Homo sapiens: one gene and its partners. The protein of the gene in region 1 purifies or fractionates together with the protein of each later gene. This does not show direct contact. Each region holds a gene or a part of one and is shown on either strand. Other genes may lie near its edges.

Region 1 (3,500 bases):
CTTGCTCATTTTATTAGAAAACTTCATTATCCCCGAAAGAAGAAATGTCTTTACTTTAGTCTTTGTACTGAATTGCTTATTCTCAATGTGCCAAAACAGTAACCTAATGCTGTGAATAGATTTACAAAAAAAGAAAAGCGTCATATATACTTCACCAACAGGACTCACTACTCAAGAAATTCTTAATCATTTTACCTTTTGGAGCAAGATTTCTAGATGCCAAATTTCTAGTAAGACTCTTATATTTTATTTTTTTTCTTTCTTCTTTAATTTGCTTTTCTTTTTGACATAATTTCTCTTCTCTCTGAATTTTTTTTTGCTCCTCAGCTTTTCTTTGATATTCTTTCCAGGCTTCCAATGCTTTAGTGGCTTTTATCCGTTCATTTTCTTTCATATCTTCTATTTTTTTCCTCTCTTCTTCTTCAATCTATAACAATTGCAATTACCAAATTCTTTAAAATACATAAAAGCAACATTTATTTAAATGAGAAATTCATTACAATAATTAGTTATTCATACCTCTAAACTCTTGCCATTGTATTTGTAACAATAGGTAGTAGTGAATTATGAATTAAAATGGGAAAGGTAAATGATTCAGGAGAAAAACCATTGGTGTTGGAGTCATGGAACAAAGATTTTAGTCCCAGATCTACCATTAGCTGTATGGTCTTAGGCAATCACTTTCTCCAACCTCAGTTTACTTATATGTAAAATGTGGGCAGGCATTCAATTAGATGATACCTAAGGGCTTGGTAGAAAAAATAATAGAAATTTATTATTCTAGGAGTTAAGCCACTTCTCTCAAAATCTACACACACACACACACACACACACATCCCAACACATATATTCAAACATTTGCTTTTCAACTTATCCCAAGTCTTACCCTGTCAACCGAAGTTGTGCCAACCCTTCAGTCCTAAGGACTGAAGGAAGAGGGAACAGTAGAAAAGGAAATAGGAAGGATGAACAAGACGGTCTGTCTCTGCTGGGTGGAAATATTTGAAGTCTTAATCCTGCTGCAAAACCTATGTTTGCACTAGTAGTTGTCTGACACTTTCAAAGAGCTAAATATCAGATGAATTTGAAAGCAGTATCTTGTACAGGTGTGTGGCAACTTTTCTGCCTTTCAAACTTCCCTCACATGGGCAAGAAAAAAAACCTTGTGAAACAGAGTACCTAGTTGGTGTACATGATTGACTCCATGTATCTGACTTTCCTATGGTAAGAAAAATTTCTTACCTCTATCCACTAGAGAAGCACTTACTTCAATGATCAAAATGTCTGTGCTATCCAATATAGTAGCCACTAGCCACAGGTGGCTAATTAAGTACTTCAAATGTGGCTACTGAGACTCAGGAACTGAATTTTTAATGTTATTTAAGTTTCATTAATGTACATTTAAATTAATTTACATTTAAATAGGACATCTGAAGTGGTTCTAGACTATGGATATGCTAGGATGAAGGTCCCTAAATGTTGTATTACTTTAAAATAGAGATTTAACATTACGAGTATGAAACCTGTGCACTGAAAGGTGCTCTGTAATATCTACATGACATAATACTCTCTTCTAGAAGACTGATTATTTTCCTGTGAGATGCTGACTTTAAAATAAATTTCACGGGACACTGAATGAAAATTTCCTGTAGTCCCAATTTTACCTCAGGCTTAAATTAAGCACAAAATATGCTAATTATTACTATATATTCTTAGTTCAGAGAGTTGCCAGTAAGCTGCCAACAGATTGAACCAGGAAGAATCTACACATGGCAATGAAACAAAATTTAAATGCCTCACAATAAGGCATGATGAACACTCCATGTTAGAGAGGAAGCCACAACCTAAAAGACGACTTCACCCAGCCTAATTATATGTCTGCCTTTTTTCACTCTCTGCCCCAACACATGAAAAAGGGAGAATATGTGGAGAGTCAGACACCCTCACCCATCATACTCCCTGCAAGAAGAATGAATTTTACATGAAGTTTTTAAAATGCATAAGACTAAGTCTTAATTACCAAAAATGAGACTGTTCTTACAACAAAAAATAACAGGAAAGTTCTGGTATTATAGCCAAGATGTAGTTAAGGGAACTATAGGTATAATGATAATTTATAATAAGCTATATTAGAGACAGAAATAGTCCAGCTCTTCAGAGAGTAGTGATGAAGAGGAGAAACCAAGAAAGGCTTCACAGAGTAGGTAACAGAAGGAACTACAATGAAGAGAAAAACATGAAGAAGAAAATAACACAAAGCTTATGATAAAGAGAAAAGAGACTACATGTACCAAAGAAAAACAGAGTGTACAGTGACCGGGCGCGGTGGCTCACGCCTGAAATCCCAGCACTTTGGGAGGCTGAGGCAGGTGGATCATCTGAGGTCAGGAGTTCGAGACCAGCCTGGCCAACATGGTGAAACCCTGTCTCTACTAAAAAATACAAAATTTAGCCGGGCTTGGTGGCAGGCCCTTAATCCCAGCTACTTGGGAGGCAGAGGGAGGAGAATCATTTGAACCTGGGAGGTGGAGGTTGCAGTGAGCCGAGATAAAGCCATTGCACTCAAACCTGGGGGACAAGAGCGAGGCTCCTCTCAAAAAAAAAAGAAAGAAAGAAAGAAAAAGAAAAACAGAGTGTACAGAGAAAAAACAAACTGTTTATGCCTCTTATATACTCTCACAACACTCCATAGGTCACTTCCATCACGAAACTTGTGGGTTTCTCCTATGCTTACCAATTCTTTTTTTTTTTTTTTTTTTTTTTTTTGAGACGGAGTCTCACTCTGTCGCCCAGGCTGGAGTGCAGTGGCGCAATCTCGGCTCACTGCAAGCTCCGCCTCCTGGGTTCATGCCATTCTCCTGCCTCAGCCTCCCGAGTAGCTGGAACTACAGGTGTCTGCCACCACACCTGGCTAATTTATTTTTTTTTTATATTTTTAGTAGAGACGGGGTTTCACTGTGTTAGCCAGGATGGTCTCGATCTCCTGACCTCGTGATCCGCCCACCTTGACCTCCCAAAGTGCTGGGATTACAGGCGTGAGCCACTGCGCCCGGCCTATGCTTACCAATTCTCTAACATCAGCTATGTGTCCTCTAATTCAGTTCTGTCATTATCTACCCGGAGTTAGCATTAGATCCCACAGGTTAAGGGCTCAATTCCATAAGACAGTCTCCACACAGATGCCAATCATAAGTCCAGGACTCCCATATTTCTAACCAATCAGCTATAAGTTGGGGGTTTCTACAACCCCCTCCTCAGGTTTGACCATTTGCTTCAATGGCTCACAGGAATCAGATAAATACCTCGCTTATATTTACCCCTTTTTTTTTTTTTCTGAGACGGAGTCTCACTCCGTTGCCCAGGCTGGAGTGCAGTGGCACGATCTCGGCTCACTGCAACCTCCGCCTCCCAGGTTCAAGTGATTGTCCTGCCTCAGCCTCCTGAGTAGCTGGGTCTACAGGCACATACCACCACGCCTGGCTAATTTTTGTATTTTTAGT
Region 2 (3,500 bases), on another chromosome or scaffold:
ACTGGGTACCTTACTGCCATCCCAAGGCATTTCCAAGGCTTCTACAGCAAAGATCTGCTCTTGTGTCAGCCTCTCAGACCCCCTACCCCCACCCCTCGAGGCAGACAGGGCACTGGCAGGACACTCACCGCATGCTGGAAATCCGCGGACATGCCCATGCTCAGCTCAACCTGGTCAGCAGGGATGTTCAGCTTTTTACACAGCTCCTCCCGGAGGGACAATAACAGCTGACAGAAAGAGATGACACCTATTTTACTCCTGCCTTCTCTAACGATGCCCAAAAGTGTCTGAATCTGAACTTCTCTGACAACGGTTATGTATTCCTTATGATTTCAAGGCCTGCCAAAATTGCCAGACGTTACTGAAAGGGTTTTTTGCAAACTATCCCACTTTCGAGAAAACTATTAGTCACTGGAGAGGAAGAAATCTCATATTCTCTAAAGACTATGTTTTAGCCAAGTTCAAGTTGAGTTGAAAAAGGTTTGTGGGGCTTTGGAAACCTGTTCTTCCCTTTTCCTTCTGAGAAGAGTTCAAAAGAGGGCTAGAACACTCAACAGGCAGTGTCTGGGATGACTCTGCAATCCCCACTGCAGCCAGCCCTGCAATAGCACTCCAGCACCCTGCTTCTTTAGCACACGAGCAATCTCCCCGACCCCCCAGTACCTGGAAGTCTGGATTTGGTCCTTGACTAAGATCATGCCCAAAGCTTCCTATGGTCATCAGCCCCACAAACTCCAGGTTAGGACACTTGGCGTTTATGTGCTCCACGATGGCTATGGTCTCTGAAGGTGGAAGGCCATGTTTACCTTCAAGAAAAGAAACAGAAAACAGGTATACTGCAAGGGTAAATGGCCAGAGGAAGGCTCCATTTTCCTCCCTTCCTTACGACAGAAGAGGTGACCCCCAACAAGAGAACCTCTTGAAAGAGCCTCAAGTCCTAAAGAGTAACTTTATACTTGGGGTTTTCTATGTTGCTCTGCTTCTGGTCAGGTTCTAAATTTCTCAAGAAAAGAACTATCAGTTGGATTCTCTTTCCTCCATCTCAGGATTTCAGCTGAAAACAGCTAGGAGACATGGAAAAGAAAAAATCTTGCTTTTTTGGGATACCAGGAAGATTTGCATTGCCAAAATGCCAGATGAACCTGAGAATTACTTTTCTAAATCAAGAATTTTTATAGTTTTATTAATTTAATGGAGTTGCAAAAAATTTAGTATAAAGTACATGTTAAATATTTTTGGCTATATATTAGCAAAGTTTAACTGAACTTTCTAATTAACAACTGGAAGAGAAATCTGCAGCAAGCAATTATTTGTTATACAGTTATAAGAGCTATTGATATTGTCTTGCCCCCATTTATTAGGCGGAGATACTAGTAACATTTACTTCAGTCTTTAAATAGGGCATATTATAGCTAATTATCAAGAAATGATACAATAAAGACTTGACCTATAGTTGATTTCAGATTTCTATTGATAATTGGGATTTAAACCCAGGTAGTCTGACTCTAGGACGTTATCTAGAAAACAGATGCCTCTACTGTGTTCCTGCATACTAAGATTTGGTGAATACTGGTGCTTTGATGGTTGCAATCAAATGCCTGATCTGTATACATTTATTCTTAACGAATAGCTAACAACATGTGTAGGGTTCTGTGCTAACAATGTTGCCTGGATTATCATATTCAGTCCTAACCACACCCTCTGAAGTAAGCATTCTCATGATACCATTGCCAAAAAAGGAAACTGAAGTACAGAGAGATTAGGTAACTTATCCAAGGTTACAATACTGGAAAGTAGTGTAGCTGAAACCCAAGGTCTGTCTGATTTCAAAGCCCATGCTTCTATTCACACTATGTTACACTGTTAATCCAAGCCCCATAAAGATATTCATTGACTGGTGCTCACCATAATTTTTTATTTATTTATTTTTTTTTGAGATGGAGTCTAACTCTGTCGCCCAGGCTGGAGTGCAGTGGCGCGATCTCGGATCACTGCAATATTCACCTCCTGGGTTCGAGGGATCCTCCTGCCTCAGCATCCCGAGCAGCTGGGGCTATGGGTGCACACCATCATGCCTGGCTAATTTTTGTATGTATGGTAGAGATGAAGTTTCATCATGTTGGCTAGGCTGGTATCGAATTTCTGACCTCAGGTGATCCACCTGCCTCAGCCTTCCCAAGTGCTGGGATTACAGGTGTAAGCCACCGCACCTGGCCCACTCACAGTAATTATCTTCCATTCTCTCCCAATGCAACATCAAGTAATTTTTTTAAGATCTAAGAGTATTTATATAATCTTAGGTCTTAAAAATTTAAAATACTCCTTGTAGGAGTGATGGTGACCTTTGGGGGTTTCCAGATGAAAGACACAATCCCAGGCCGGGTGCAGTGGCTCATGTCTTTAATCTCAGCACTTTGGGAGGCTGAGGTGGGTGGATCACCTGAGGTCAAGAGTTCAAGACCAGCCTGACCAATATGGCGAAACTCCGTCTCTACTAAAAATACAAATATTAGCTGGGCGTGGTAGCGCGTGCCTGTAATCCCAGCTACTCGGGAGGCTGAGGCAGGAGAATCGCTTCAACCCAGGAGGCGGAGGTTGCAGTGAGCTGAGATCGTGCCACTGCACTCCAGCCTGGCGACAGAGTGAGGCTCTGTCTCAAAAAAAAAAAAAAAAAAGGCTGAGTGTGGTGGCTCACGCCTGTAATCCCAGCACTTTGGGAGGCCGAGATGGGTGGATCACTTGAGAGGTCATGAGCTCGAGAGCAGTCTGGCCAATATGGTGAAACCCCATCGCTATTACAAATACAAAAATTAGCCAGGCGTGGTGGTGCACGCCTGTAGTCCCAGCTACTTGGGAGGCTGAGGTGGGAGAATTGCTTCAACCCGGGAGGCGGAGGTTGCAGTGAGCCGAGATCGCACCATTGCACTCCAGCCTGGGCGACATAGCAAGACTCCATCTCAAAAAAAAAACAAAAATACAAAACGAAGTCACAATCCCCTTCTTGAACTCCCCATCCATTCTTCTTCCCCTAAAATTAAGATATAATGAACCATGATGTAGTAAAGAATGATACATAGACTGCTTTGCATGCCATTATGCTACCTAGATCACACATAAAACAGCCAACTTAGAGGCCTGTGATCCTGTGATTTGTTTCTATAACCTTATCCATCAGACACTTGGGCCCACCCATTCTCCCTAAGCTTCAACCATCCTAAAGGAAGAAAAATCTACAATTCAGGTCTGGTTACTTACTCTCTTCTCCGCTGGTGTTAATCTGGACCATAACCTTTAACCTTTCAGGAGAACCTTTTCTCTGCCAGGAACTGTTCACTTTGTCTGCCAACTTCACAGAATCCACTGTTTCCAGCATGAAGAGATTGGGGACAGCTGTAATGAGACAGAGGCAAAGTAGTATTCCTTATTTGCTCTATTGCAGCAAGTAACATGCAACAAATCTCTGACTTGTTAGAGGAAAAAATATGCCAGGAAAAGAAAAA
Region 3 (3,431 bases), on another chromosome or scaffold:
ATGGGGATGATAGCAGGTCCCACCTCATGGGGCTGTGATGAGGAACAAATGGGGGCGCAGTGCATGGTGCAGAGGGAGCGCTTGATACGTGATTGGCCTAGGAGGGCACAAATGCCAAGTCATGTGACTCTGCACCCCCAGGGCCTGGCACATCAATATAAATGCTCCCGATCAAGAGGACAAATCGAGAGTTAGTCGTGGGGGACACATGGTGTGAGAGCGCTGGCTGCCAAGAGTTCAGCAACATATTTCTAAACAAATATTTTCCAAAGAGCAAAGTTCAGACCAAGCTTGAGATTCTGGGTTCCCTTGGGGTTTCACTAATTAAAACTCATTATTTCAATATACAAAAATGTGGGGGTAGAAAATGAAAACACACAAGTAATAAATGTTAAGCTCTTCTCTAAAAATGATTTCCACTCCGCAATGAGTGAATGCTTCAGTAATTACTCTCCCATGATTGAGTCTGAGTTTTCCCAAAGATAAATACACACAGAGCCTTGTCATAATACTTTTTTTTATTACAATATCCAAAAAACTGGGTATGCAAGTTTAGGGGATCTCAAGACCCCTTCTTCAATCGTAGGAATGTGCCATCTCAAGACGTTATATTTAAACTATAAAGAAGTTCAAATGTAAAGGAAAAAGAAAATGCAATTTCTTCATAAACATTCTGTGTGTCTCTTACTACCAATCACATACTCTTTTGTAAACCCTGAAAAATTTCCCTGTAAATAATATATATATATATAGTGTGTGTGTGTGTGTGTGTGCACGTGTGTGTGTGTATAAAGTGTTGGTAGCTCCCTTCCCCAAAGATCAGCTGTTTTCCTTAATCATCTGTATTAGTGTCAACAAACGGCTACAGATACATATTTCTTTGAGAATTAAATACATAATTGTGAGATTCAAACAAGCCGAAGGGCAAGAGGAAAAAGCACTATGTGGATGGCACATTTGGGGTAAATTACCAAAACATCTGTCTTTCTGAGTCACCGGTTCCCTCTTTTGCAGACTGCCTTTCCAGGAAATTCTTTATTGCAAGCACAGCCCCAAAGGCACTGGGCAGTCTCCTCACTGCCATCGCACCCGGTGGTTCCAGTATTGCTATCAGCAAACGTATCGGCTCCCTGCACAGTCCGGGAGCCATGTAAGGGCACAGGACATGGGCGAGGGCTGCTAGGACTGGGGCCATCGCACCTGCTCTGCCCAGCACGCTGAGTGCCCAGGACACGGGCGCTGCCGCTGGGTGGCCTTAGGCTCGCTCCTGCGCTCACAGGTGCCCTGCGTCTTTTTAAAGAGGGGTTCCATGAGCGGGAACGAGTTGAATGCACGAGCGCCACTTCCGATGGAAAAGGAATAATGTGAACTCGCCCTGCTCCTCCCCTCCTCTAAAGCTGGCCGGCCGGGTGGGCTCGAGTGTGGGTGTGAGGCCTGGATGGCAAATGGGAGACGAACCGACCAAGCGACCTGAACATAAAGAGAGACTCGCAGAGAAGCCGTCGGGGCCGTCCCCGCGGGAGGAGCCTCTGCCACAAGGCCGGGCGGGCAGCTCCACCGTGGGGCCCGGGAGGCGAGTGTGGGGCCGGGGCGCCGTCACTGCAGGGCCCTGACGAGGTAGAGCTTCTCCCCGTGCTCGCTGGTGAAGATGGGCGCCTTTTTGTAGTGTTCCACCAGCTCGTCCATGGTGTGGAAGCGCCGCTGCCCAATGCAGTAGACATTGTCCACGAGCTGCACCTTGAAGTGTTTGTTCTTCCCTGACGCTTTAAGGGACACGGAGAAGTCGCTGGGCTGGGGAGGAAACAGAACACAGTTACAGCCGGGCCACAGCGGGGAGCTGTGTCTAAATCCATCCACATCTCTTGTGCGTCTAAATCCAAACCACCCATTGCTCAAACACTGGGTCTCTGCTTTTTTTTTTTTTTTTGAGATGGAGTTTCACTCTTTTGCCCAGGCTGTAGTGTAGTGGCCCAATCTCGGCTCACTGCAACCTCCGCCTCACGGGTTCAAGCGATTCTCCTGTCTCGGCCTCCCGAGTACCTGGGATTACAGGAACCTGCCACCATGCCCGGCTAATATTTGTATTTTTAGTAGAGACAGGGTTTCGCCATGTTGGCCAGGCTGGTCTTGAACTTCTGACCTCAGGTGATCCCCACCCCCCTCCCAGCCTCAGCCTTCCAAATTGCTCGGATTACAGGCATGAGCCACCACGCCCAGCCGGGTCTCTGTTTTATATCTAGAACGGCATCTGATGTTCAGAAAGACCTGGAGGTAGTCCACGATTCTGAAATTCTGAACCAAAGAAAAAATAAATTCTGCTTAGCCCAGTTTCAGTGCTAAATGCGTTTTAGTTATTTGAAAAGTGCAAACTCATTATGGAATATACAGCACTTCACTATGGAATATACAGTGTTGCCCTGACTGCTCAAGAAATTTGCTGTTTTTCATTTCCCAAACTATTTTTTGATAAACTGGGAATTTATTAAGAGTGGTTTGCATGCAGGCAGTAGCTAGAAATTTTACTACTTCTGATGTCTAACCCTATTAGAAATTAAGACATCAAAATTTTTCTAATTCTTTTTTTTTTTGAGACGCAGTTTTGCTTTTGTTGCCCAGGCTAGAGTGCAATGGTGTGATCTTGGCTCACTGCAACCTGCGCCTCCCAGGTTCAAGCAGATTCTCCTGCCTCAGCCTCCCGATGTGCCACCATGCCTGGCTAATTTTTCTAATTCTAAGCATTTAAAAATATGAACAGCAGTGGAAAATTCCGGTCGCATTTTAAACATAGTTCACAATATCCCAGAGGAAGCTGAACTATGGTTTGATTACAGATTTTATTGAAAAATATTTAAATTCTGTGATGTGCCTTCTATTTCAGAATATTTTAGAAACATGTCATTATTTTAATTAAAATGTGTCTTTTATTGGCCAGGTGCAGTAGCTCACGCCTGTAATCTCAGCACTTTGGGAGGCCAAGGCAGGTGGATCACCTGTGGTCAGGACTTTGAGACCAGCCTGGCCAACATGGTGAAACCTCATCTCTGCTAAAAAATACAAAATTAGCCAGGCATGGTGGTAGTGTGCCTGTAATCCCAGCTACTTGGGAGGCTGAGGCAGGAGAATCGCTTGAACCTGGGAGGTGGAAGTTGTAAGCTGAGATCACGCCACTGCACTCTGGTCTGGGCAACAAGAGCGAAAAATCTCAAAAAAAAAAAAAAAAAAAAAAAAAAAAAAAAAAAATTGGTCTTTTATCTCATTTGCTGAAAAGCATGCAGGAAAGAAGATACTGAACGATAAATGTTCTTTGTACAAAAATATCAAGTTTTGATCAATTCATTAAATGAATAACAATTAGTTACTAACACATGCCAGGCAGGCGGTGCCCTGGATACATGTGTGTGCATGCAGGACATATGCTCTGTGACAATCTG

What was found. Proteins that work in one complex are often made in the same cells at the same time.
Region 2: the proteins of DNAAF4 (region 1) and PLPBP purify together in Homo sapiens (affinity purification with mass spectrometry; one large-scale study listed by BioGRID and IntAct). This does not show direct contact.
Region 3: the proteins of DNAAF4 (region 1) and NCK2 purify together in Homo sapiens (affinity purification with mass spectrometry; 3 studies listed by BioGRID and IntAct, with this or other methods). This does not show direct contact.

The regions. Positions count from the first base shown.
Region 1 is NC_000015.10:55,466,735-55,470,234, forward strand, and holds part of DNAAF4 (dynein axonemal assembly factor 4), read right to left. Parts: intron 428-3,500; coding exon 196-427; intron 1-195.
Region 2 is NC_000008.11:37,772,645-37,776,144, reverse strand, and holds part of PLPBP (pyridoxal phosphate homeostasis protein), read right to left. Parts: intron 3,391-3,500; coding exon 3,256-3,390; intron 837-3,255; coding exon of another isoform or gene 807-836; coding exon 664-806; intron 228-663; coding exon 129-227; intron 1-128. UniProt on the Homo sapiens protein: Pyridoxal 5'-phosphate (PLP)-binding protein, which may be involved in intracellular homeostatic regulation of pyridoxal 5'-phosphate (PLP), the active form of vitamin B6.
Region 3 is NC_000002.12:105,891,342-105,894,772, reverse strand, and holds the end of NCK2 (cytoplasmic protein NCK2), read right to left. Parts: intron 1,792-3,431; coding exon 1,597-1,791; 3' UTR 501-1,596; downstream 1-500. UniProt on the Homo sapiens protein: Adapter protein which associates with tyrosine-phosphorylated growth factor receptors or their cellular substrates. Maintains low levels of EIF2S1 phosphorylation by promoting its dephosphorylation by PP1.